2 linked regions of the Homo sapiens genome follow. The protein of the gene in region 1 purifies or fractionates together with the protein of each later gene. This does not show direct contact. Each region holds a gene or a part of one and is shown in the gene's direction. Other genes may lie near its edges.

Evidence for each region. Proteins that work in one complex are often made in the same cells at the same time.
Region 2: the proteins of CIRSR (region 1) and HPX purify together in Homo sapiens (affinity purification with mass spectrometry; one large-scale study listed by BioGRID and IntAct). This does not show direct contact.

What each region holds. Positions count from the first base shown.
Region 1 is NC_000002.12:174,384,887-174,390,166, reverse strand, and holds part of CIRSR (corepressor interacting with RBPJ 1), read left to right. Parts: intron 1-2,387; coding exon 2,388-2,482; intron 2,483-5,280. UniProt on the Homo sapiens protein: May modulate splice site selection during alternative splicing of pre-mRNAs. Regulates transcription and acts as corepressor for RBPJ. Recruits RBPJ to the Sin3-histone deacetylase complex (HDAC). Required for RBPJ-mediated repression of transcription.
Region 2 is NC_000011.10:6,430,066-6,435,345, reverse strand, and holds the end of HPX (hemopexin precursor), read left to right. Parts: intron 1-3,328; coding exon 3,329-3,459; intron 3,460-3,542; coding exon 3,543-3,705; intron 3,706-3,875; coding exon 3,876-4,135; 3' UTR 4,136-4,297; downstream 4,298-5,280. UniProt on the Homo sapiens protein: Binds heme and transports it to the liver for breakdown and iron recovery, after which the free hemopexin returns to the circulation.

The sequences.
Region 1 (5,280 bases):
GTCTGTGGCTTTTCCAGGCACATGGTACAAGTTGGTGGATCTACTATACTGGGGTCTGGAGGACAGAGGCCCTCTTCTCGCAGCTCCACTAGGCAGTACCCCAGTAGGGACTCTGTGTGGGGGCTCCGACCCCACATTTCCCTTCCGCACTGCCCTAGTAGAGGTTCTCCAAGAGGGTTCCACCCCTGCAGCAAACATCTGCCTGAACATCCAGGTGTTTCCATACATCTTCTGAAATCTAGGCAGAGGTTCCCAAACCTCAGTTCTTGCCTTCTGCGCACGTGTAGGCCCAACATCACATGGAAGCTGCCAAGGTTTGGGGCTTGCATTCTCTGAAGCAGTGGCCATAGCTGGAGTGGCTGGAATGCAGGGCACGAAGACCAAAGGTTGTACCCAGCAGTTGAGAGGCTGGACCCGGCCCAGGAAACCACTTTTTTCCTTCTCCTAGGCCTCCAGGCCTATGATGGGAGGGGCTGCTGTGAAGGTCTCTGACATACCCTGGAGACATTTTCCCTTGTCTTGGTGATTAACATTCGACTTCTCATTATTTATGCAAATTTCTGCAGCCGGCTTGAATTTCTCCCCAGAAAATAGGGTTTTCTTCTCTATTCCATTGTCAGGCTGCAGAATTTCCAGAATTTTATGCTGTGCTTCCTCTTGAATGCTTTACTGCTTAGAAATTTCTTCTACCGGATACCTTAAGTCATCTCTCTCAAGTTCAAAGTTCCACAGATCTCTGGGGCAGAGGCAAAATGCCACCAGTTTCTTTGCCTAGCAAGAGAGACTTTTACTCCACTTCCCAAAAGGTTTCCCATCTCCATCTGAGACCACCTCATCCTGGACTTCATTGTCCATATTACTATCAGCATTTTGGTTAAAGCCATTCAACAAGTCTCTAGGAAGTTCCATACTTTCCCACATCTTCCTGTTTTCTGAGCACTCCAATTCTCTAGGAAGTTCCAGAGTTTCCCACATTTTCCTGTTCCAACCTCCACCTGTTACCCAGTTCTAAAGTCACTTCCACATTTTCGGGTATCCTTTTAGCAGCCCTCCATTCTACCTATACCAATTTACTATATTAGTCTATTCTCACGCTGCTATGAAGAAATGACCAAGACTGAGTAATTTATAAAGGCAAGAGGTTTAATTGACAGGAAACTTACAATCATGGCAGAAGGGGAAGCAAACATGTCCTTCCTCACATGGTAGCAGTGAGGAGAAGTGCTGAGCAAAAGAGGAAAAACCCCTTATAAAACCATCAGATCTTGTGAGAACTCACCCACTGTCATGAGAACAGCATGAAGTGTAACCGCCCCCATGATTCAATTACATCCCACCGGGTCCCTCCCATGACACATGGGGATTATGGGAACTATGATTCAAGATGAGATTTGTGTGGGGACACAGCCAAACCATATCAGATCTCCATGATATATAATTTTATTTTATATATATTTTGTGTGCGTGTGTGTGTTTGCGTAAAATATGTTACCATTTATATAAGAAGAATGTGGTATATGTTCTTTTGCATATATATATATATTAGAACATCTTGGAAGGATATATAAGAAATGTATAACATTGACTACCTATGAATATAGTTAATATAATTTAAACTATAAATACAGCTTTGAAAAAACCCAAACTTGCTATAAAGCATTCTGTGGACTGGGCACAGTGGCTTACGCCTGTAATCCCAGCACTTGGGGAGGCTGAGGCAGGCGGATTGCCTGAGGTCAGGAGTTCAAGACCAGCCTGGCCAACATAGCGAAACCCCTTCTCTACTAAAAATACAAAAAAATTAGTTTGGTGTGGTGGCAGGGTCCTGTAATCCCAGCTACTCCGGAGGCTGAGGCAGGAAAATCACTTCAACCTGGGAGGAAGAGGTTGCAGTGAGCCAAGATCATGCCATTGCACTCCAGTCTGGGTGATAGCCAGACTTCGTCTCAAAAATAAAAAGAACTCGTATCAAGACACTTCAGATTTTTCAGGTGTTAATTTGTAATGATGTAATTGCGGCCAAATTGGATTATGTTGTAAACTTTCAGCCAAGTTTATCCAGCTCTTGGCCTGTGGGTCACATGTGGCCCAGGACGGCTTTGAATGTGGCCCAACACAAATTTGTAAACTTTCTTAAAACATTATGAGATTTTTTTGCCCTTTTCTTTTTTTTAGCTCGTTGGCTATCGTTAGTATATTTTGTGTGGCCCAAGACAATTCTTCTTCTTCCACTGTGTATTAGTGTGTTTTCTGTGGCCCAGGGAAGCCAAAAGATTGGGCACTCCTGCTTTAAACAATTGCATTTTATATTTTATTATACAAGAAAAGCAAAGTTTGTTTAATTTAAATCCAACAATTTAATTTGCATTTTTACTTCACTAATCTAGGTATGGATGGCAGAACAGAAAATATCATATGATAAGAAGAAACAAGAAGAATTGATGCAGCAATATCTTAAAGAACAAGAATCATATGATAATAGGTAAGAAATTCTGTTATGCCAGTATATCTAGAATTATCAATTTCATGGGAATAATTTCCTACTGAATGATATATTAAGTCAGTTTTTTGGAATCAAATACCCAATTATAGGATTCGTGTCTTTCCGTGAGGGCTATCTCTTTTACTCTCATACCTGTAGATGACCACTTTTTCCAGCTTTACCCATAATTCACGTAAAATATAGATTCACGTGACTCATATACAGTCTTTGAGCAAGTCTCAAATTAGGCAAAGCTTAGAAGAACAATCATGTCTACACTTGAACTGCTGAGACCTCTTACAGACTTATTTCTTTAACACAAAAGATACCCAGCATACTTTCAAGAGGAAAGGTAAAGTGACTTTATTTGACACGCATGTCATTGTTCTGTTAAAAGCTGTTTCGTGGCTAGAGTTCTTCATTGGTGTCTTCTAACATGGTACCTGCCTTTAACTATTGTGTTTGTATATGCAGATCTAACACTGAAGCTGGTTTCTCTTGGTTAATCTTAAGCCACTGAATAGTGGTGTTTTGGTAAATTGCCCATGAAGTTCAGTTTTCAATCAAAATATGGAATTTAGCAAACTAATACTAAACTATTACTACTCTTTAAAATATAATATATTGAGAGGAAAGTTAAAGAAATAAAAGTTAAGTAGCTTTCTCACTAATTTTATTTAATCTTAGTAACTTTTATTGAGTACTCCATGCATGGCAATAAGTGGTATTATAGGGACCTATAAAAGTGTGTGAAGTGTAGTTTATCCTTAAGAAACCCTAGTAAGAGATACAAATACATATAGTTGAAGGCCAAATATAATAACTGATATATTAAAAACATACACTGCTTTTAAAAATACAGCATGTTAGTATAGGAAATAATAATTCCATTTAGGTTAACAGAAGACTTTATGGAAGAGGTGACATTTAAGCTGAACTCTGAAGAATGATAAGGATTTAGATAGGTGGTTCTCAACTGAGCGCCGTTTTTTGCGCCCTCCCTGCCACCCTGCCCAGGGAACGTGGCAATGTTTGGAGACATTGTTTTGATTGTCACAACTGCGGACTGGGGTGCTATCAACATCTAGTGGGTGGAGACTATGGATGCCGCAAAACAGCCTACAATGCACAGGACAGCTCCACACAACAAAGAACTATCTAGTTCAAAATGTCAATAGCATCACTGTTTAAAAACCCTAATTTGGTCGGGCGCAGTGGCTCATGCCTGTAATCCCAGCACTTTGGGAGGCCAAGGCGGGCAGATCACCTGAAGTCGGGAGTTCGAGACCAGCCTGACCAACATGGAGAAACCCCGTTTCTACTAAGAAATACAAAGTTAGCCAAACCTGGTAGTGCATGCCTGTAATCCCAGCTACTCAGGAGGCTGAGGCAGGAGAATTGCTTGCACCTGGGAGGCAGAAGTTGTGCTAAGCCAAGATCACGCCACTGAACTCCAGCGTGGCCAACAAGAGCGAAACTCCGTCTCAGATAAACAACAACAACAAAAACCTTATTTTTATATTATTAATAGTAAAAACATATTGGAAAATGGAGAGGGTATTCAGGAAACAGTTGTTGAGTTAGAGGGATAAAAACAGAGTGGAGGTGAAAAACTAGGTTTGAAACAGATCACAGTGTTCATGTTTATTCTTTATCTTTAAAAAAAGTTACTATTTTCCCTTTTAATTAATATTTGAAGCCCTGCAAATACCCTGTTTCTCCTTGGACTTTTGCCTAATTTTGGTATTCATCAGTAGATCTTGCTTGCATCAATTATATATTTCTGTGATGTTCTAATGGTTATTTTCTATTTCTATCATTCCCTCTACATTTATTAATTTGAATTCCTCTGTAAGGAAGAATTTCCCTTATCTAGTTACTATTAATTTTCTATCAATATGGACTCATGGCTGTTTATTTAATTCTTTGGATTATAATATAATACTATTGTTACTTATTTTCTTGCTCCAGTTGTTTCAGTTTGGGCCATTGAGAGCTCTGTTAGATTGGCTCGTATATCCATTTAACATGCACCAACCCTGTTTTGTTTTGTTTTTTTAATGCTGCTTCTGGTCCCACAAGGTGGTCAGACTCGTCTTTTATTTTCCCTGCTGCAGCATTGGAATCAACCAGTTTTCTTAGGCACCCAGATTCCTTTCATTGGTGAATGATATTTAGAAACCACGATCTGAGCACTAAGTGTGTTCATTGCTACTAAGATATTATTACTTCTAGGTTTGGTCATTTGAATGCAAATTTATGAGTAATTGGTCATTTGCCAAGTGTTTATTTCTTCCTCATTCAAAAGTACTGTTTTTGATAGCCAATTTCATTCTTCAGTAATCTATTGTTTCTCTTTTGTTTTTACTGTCCTAGAGATTTCTTAATGTTTATTATATCAATCACCTTAGTCGCTTTATACTTTTTTCCTAAGATGAAAAAAAAAATTTTTTTTTTTTTTTTTTTTTTGAGAGGAAGGTCTCACTCTGTTGCCCAGGCTGGAGTGCAGTGGTATGATTATGTCTCACTGCAGCCTCAAACTTCTGGGTTCAAGCGATCCTCCTGCTTCGGTCTCCTGAATAGCTGGAACTACAGGCACACACCACCACACCCAGCTAATTTTTTCTTTTTTGTAGAGACAGGGTCTCTCACTCACTGTGTTGATCAGTCTGATCTTGAACTCCTGGACTCAAGCAATCCTCCCGCCTTGGCCTCCCAAAGTGCTGGGATTACAGGCATGAGCCGCCATGCCCAGCTGAAAATCACATTTATTATTCTGTCTAGATACATACAAAGAT
Region 2 (5,280 bases), on another chromosome or scaffold:
GTCCCTCCCCTCTCACTGGTAAATTTTTCTTTCTCTGACTCACAGTTTTGTTGTTGTTGTTGCTGTTGTTTGAGATGGAGTCTCACTCTGTCACCCAGGCTGGAGTGCAATGGCGCAATCTTGGTTCACTGCAACCTCTGCCTCCTGGGTTCAAGCGATCCTCCTGCCTCAGCCTCCCGTATAGCTGGGACTACAGGCGCATACCACCATGCCTGGCTAATTTTTGTATTTTTTTTTGGGTTACAATGTACTATTTATTAATTTAATTTTTGTATTTTTAGTAGAGATAGGGTTTCACCATGTTGGCCAGGCTGGTCTCGAACTCCTGACCTCAGGTGATCCGCCTGCCTCGGCCTCCCAAAGTGCTAGGATTACAGGCATGAGCAACCACGCCTGGCCCCTCATAGGTTTTTATCTATTCTCTTTGCTTCTTCACAACTTTGGCTTGCACGTGGACCATCATGTTCTCTCCACTTTCTCACTACTTCATGATCTTTCAGTCTCAGTTCCAACTGATACCTCCCTCAGTTGCTCTTTTTTCCTAGTAAGATTTCCAGAGAGGGAATCTGAATGGCCCAGTCCATATTTTCAGACCACACCACATTAAAGTGGTTGATTGCCAGCCTATGTATTGGCTACATTAATGGGTTGGGAACTCATCATTTACTTCATTGCACAAAGCAGCATAGCTCTGGTTCTCAAAATAGGGCCCCTGGGCCAGGTGTGGTGGCTCATGCCTATAATCCCAACACTGTGGGAGGCCGAGGGGGGCAGATCACTTGAGTCCAGGAGTTCTAGACCAGCCTGGGCAACATGGTGAAATCTCATCTCTACTAAAAATACAAAAAATTAGCCAGGTGTGGTGGCATGCACCAGTAGTCCCAGCTGTTCAGGAGGCTGAGGTGGGAGGATTGCTCGAGTGTGGGAGGCAGAGATTGCAGTGAACCGTGACTGTGCCTCTGCAATCCAGCCTGGGTGACAGATTGAGACCCTGTCTCAAAAAACAAATAAATAAAATAAAATAAATATGGTTCCTGAGCAGGGTAATTTCAGTGGGAAACCTCCCAGGGGAGGTGGATATGTCAGTCACCGCTGTATACTCAGTACACGGCTAATAAGAGAACTTGTGGTAGCAGCAAGAACACTAGGTATTTACTCAACAAATATTTGTTGAGCATCTGATAAGAAGTGGGCATTGTCCTAGGCACTGAGATACAGTAGTCAACATGGCAGACAAGATGCCTGCCCTGACAGGCTCTGCTAAAGTGAGAGAGGACAATAAGAAAGAGAAAGGAAGAAAGAGAATAATTTTAGGTAATATTAAGGGTTGTAAAGAAAATAAGACAGGATAGTGGGATAGAGGTGAGGAGAATGAGGGCTGTCTTCTGAAGAAATGATTTTTGAGCTGAGACTTCAGTGATGAGAAGGAATTAACCACACGATGTGCTGGAGGAAAAGCATTTTAGGGAGGGTGAGCAGCACATACTTCAAGGAATCAAGAAGGAAGCCTGGTGAGGCTGGAACACAGAGAAAGAGCAGGTGGGTGACTTGAAAGGGCAGGGACGGCAGTGGCCAGGTTACCTAGACCTGGTAAGGGTTTTCAACCATAAAAGGGAGTCATCAGAAAGTCTTGAGCAGGGCTGTGATATATTCTAACTCATTTTTTATAAAAGATCACTCTGACTTTTTGCAGAACATAAGTTATAAAAGTACAAGCATGTAAGCAAGGAATCCAGCTAGCAATCCGTGCAGTTGTCCAAATTAGAGGTGATGACCGCTTGGACTAGGATGATAGCAGCAGAGGTGGTGAGGAATCACCATGATATATTTTGGAGGTAGAGCTGACAGCATTAACTAATAGCTAAGATAGGCCGGGTGTGGTGGCTTACGCCTGTAATCCTAGCACTTTGGGAGGCCAAGGCGAGTGGATCACCTGAGGTCAGGAGTTCGAGACCAGCTTGACCAACATGGTGAAACCTCGTCTCTACTAAAAATACAAAATTAGCTGGGAATGGTGGCACATGCCTGTAATCTCAGCCTACTTGGGAGGCTGAGGCAGGAGAATCGCTTGAACCTGGGAGGTGAATGTTGCAGTGAGCCGAGATTGCACCATTGCACTCCAGCCTGGGGAACAAGAGTGAAACTCCGTCTCTAAATAAATGAATGAATGAATGATATCAGTCAGAGTAGGGAAGGGAAAAGAGGCTTCAAGAATGACTCAGCTTTCGTGGACTCAGCAACTGAGTGGCTGGTGGTTTTGTTTTCTAAAATTGGGAAAGACTAGGGAGTGTGTGTGTTGGTGGGGGGCAGAAATCAGTTTGGGCATATTAGGTTTTGGGTGCCTATTGGCACCCCATAAGCATGTCAGGTAGGCAGCTGATTTGGAGCCTAAACCTCAAAGGAGAGGTCAGTCAGAGCTGACGAGAACAGATTGGAAGTCATCAGCATATAGATGGCATTTAAAGCCCCTGGACTAGGTGAGATTACCAAGGAAGTGAAGGTAGAGAGAGAAGAGAAGAGGCCCAAAGTAGGGGATTCCAATATTTAGATATCAGGTTGAAGAAAAGAGTAGTCAAAAAAGATAAGAGGAATACTGGGAGAGTCAGGTGTCACAGAAGCCAAGTTCCAAAAAAAGACATTTAAAGGAGAAGGAAGTAGTGAGCAGTCCAGTGCTCCTGAGAGGTAGGGTCAGATGAGAACAGAGAATTGACCATGAGATTTCGCAAATTGGAGAATACTAGCAACCTGGATAAGAACAATTTCAATGGTTGAGGGAAACAGAAGTGTAATTGAAGAGGATTGAGGAAAAAAGACAAATGGGAGCCTAGATAATTCCTTAATAAGTTGTTGTGAAAAGAGGAGAAGAAAAACGGGGTGCTAGCCCAGCTACTCCCTCACTCTTCCACCACCTCATAGGGAGAGACTGGAGAACACAGCCAGAGTGAGAACATTCAGTAGAAGTGGTGCTTCCTTTTTAAGTTCTGGACACTGTATTTCATTATCTATAACCGCATCTCTGTACATGGACACCTGAAATCCTTAGGGAGTGCCCGCCAACCCCATGATGTTGGCCTTACCTGGAAACTTAGCCACTGTTTTCCACACTTGCCTTTCTTTCAGGCACCTGCTGATTCCAGTTTCAGCCAGGGCACAGTGCCCAACATTGCTGACCAAGTCTTGCTCTATTTCTCCTTCTCACCTGGCCTCTTCCATCTTGGCCTCTGGATGCATTCTCTCCCTCTCATGACTCATTTCTGCATTCATCACTAGCCTCTTCTCTGCCTGGGCTTCTGCCAGCGGCCCTAGAGCAACCTATGGTATTCCACAGGGACCCACTACTGGCGTCTGGACACCAGCCGGGATGGCTGGCATAGCTGGCCCATTGCTCATCAGTGGCCCCAGGGTCCTTCAGCAGTGGATGCTGCCTTTTCCTGGGAAGAAAAACTCTATCTGGTCCAGGTGTGTATTGGGGGAGAGGCTTGAGGTAGAGACTGGGACAAGCATATCCAACTCTGTATTTATTACCATCCTTTGTCCTCCAGGGCACCCAGGTATATGTCTTCCTGACAAAGGGAGGCTATACCCTAGTAAGCGGTTATCCGAAGCGGCTGGAGAAGGAAGTCGGGACCCCTCATGGGATTATCCTGGACTCTGTGGATGCGGCCTTTATCTGCCCTGGGTCTTCTCGGCTCCATATCATGGCAGGTGAGGGGCTTCTGGGTGCTTAGAGGGCAGCTTGTTCTGCTACCTGTCTGTGGCATAGATCCCCACCAGGGCATGAGAAGGCCTAGGTCAGGATCCCCAGGGCATGAGAAGGCCTAGGTCAGGATCCCCATGACATGGAAGCCATGCTATGTTTGGTGCCTTCTCCCCAGGACGGCGGCTGTGGTGGCTGGACCTGAAGTCAGGAGCCCAAGCCACGTGGACAGAGCTTCCTTGGCCCCATGAGAAGGTAGACGGAGCCTTGTGTATGGAAAAGTCCCTTGGCCCTAACTCATGTTCCGCCAATGGTCCCGGCTTGTACCTCATCCATGGTCCCAATTTGTACTGCTACAGTGATGTGGAGAAACTGAATGCAGCCAAGGCCCTTCCGCAACCCCAGAATGTGACCAGTCTCCTGGGCTGCACTCACTGAGGGGCCTTCTGACATGAGTCTGGCCTGGCCCCACCTCCTAGTTCCTCATAATAAAGACAGATTGCTTCTTCGCTTCTCACTGAGGGGCCTTCTGACATGAGTCTGGCCTGGCCCCACCTCCCCAGTTTCTCATAATAAAGACAGATTGCTTCTTCACTTGAATCAAGGGACCTTGGTCGTGAAACAATCTTCTTTCTTTGAGTTGAAAAGTTAGCACTTCTCCTTTGAGGGTGTCGAGCTCAAACAAGGCTGTGAGAAACAAGGGAGGGGAGCACTAAGGGGCAAACCTATCTCTGCGCAGATGATTCTTAGGTCCAGATCATAAACTAGCTCTTTGCAGACTATCTACACATAGTGGGGGGAAAGAGAACCAGAGTCGGAAGAGGAACAGCTGAGTTTATACAGCAAGTAAGAGGTGGAGCTAGGACTCTGATTCAACTTGCTGGTAGATGGCCACAACCCAGCCGCAAGGCATCAGAAACAACAGGGCCTGGGGCAACTATGCATGTGCAAAGAGGATTGGCTCAGAGTTGTGGGGTAGGAGGTCCAATCTGGGGGACCTCAAATTATGGTTCTGGGTGATTCAAGTAACACCACTCATGGCTTGTGTTGCCATGAGTTAGGCATGACAAGTGGAATGAAGTTGAAGTGGGGAAACAGAAATACACCAGCTGTGTGTCAGAGGCAAGCTGGAGAGAGAGAAGAAAGAATGAATGGCACCATGGAGCACATTTGCAGAACACAGTCCCTGGGAGTCTTGCTGGAGCCTCAGGAGCTTTGCTGGCACAGAGGATCTGGCCTACCCAATTAGCCTCCTGGGTATCTGCACCATCTAGACCAGCAAATGTCACTGGCAAGGAGGTTGCAGTGCTTGGTTATTTTCTGGTCATAAACTGGTGAAGGCTTTGGGTTCCAAATTTGCTGACAGCTGTTTAACTGGGAATTGGGCCTAGACTATAGGTAGCTATGTCTCAGACAAGGCCCTGTTCCTCCACTGCCTTTACAACCCAGCTGAGGTTGGAGGCTGGCTTGTTTCAGCCTCAAAAAATAGCCTGAGTTTCCAGCAGAGGGCCCTTATTCTGAGCTTCCGTGTCCTAGCCTCATTTTCCTTTCCTGTAAAATAGACACAATGCCACCCACCTTCC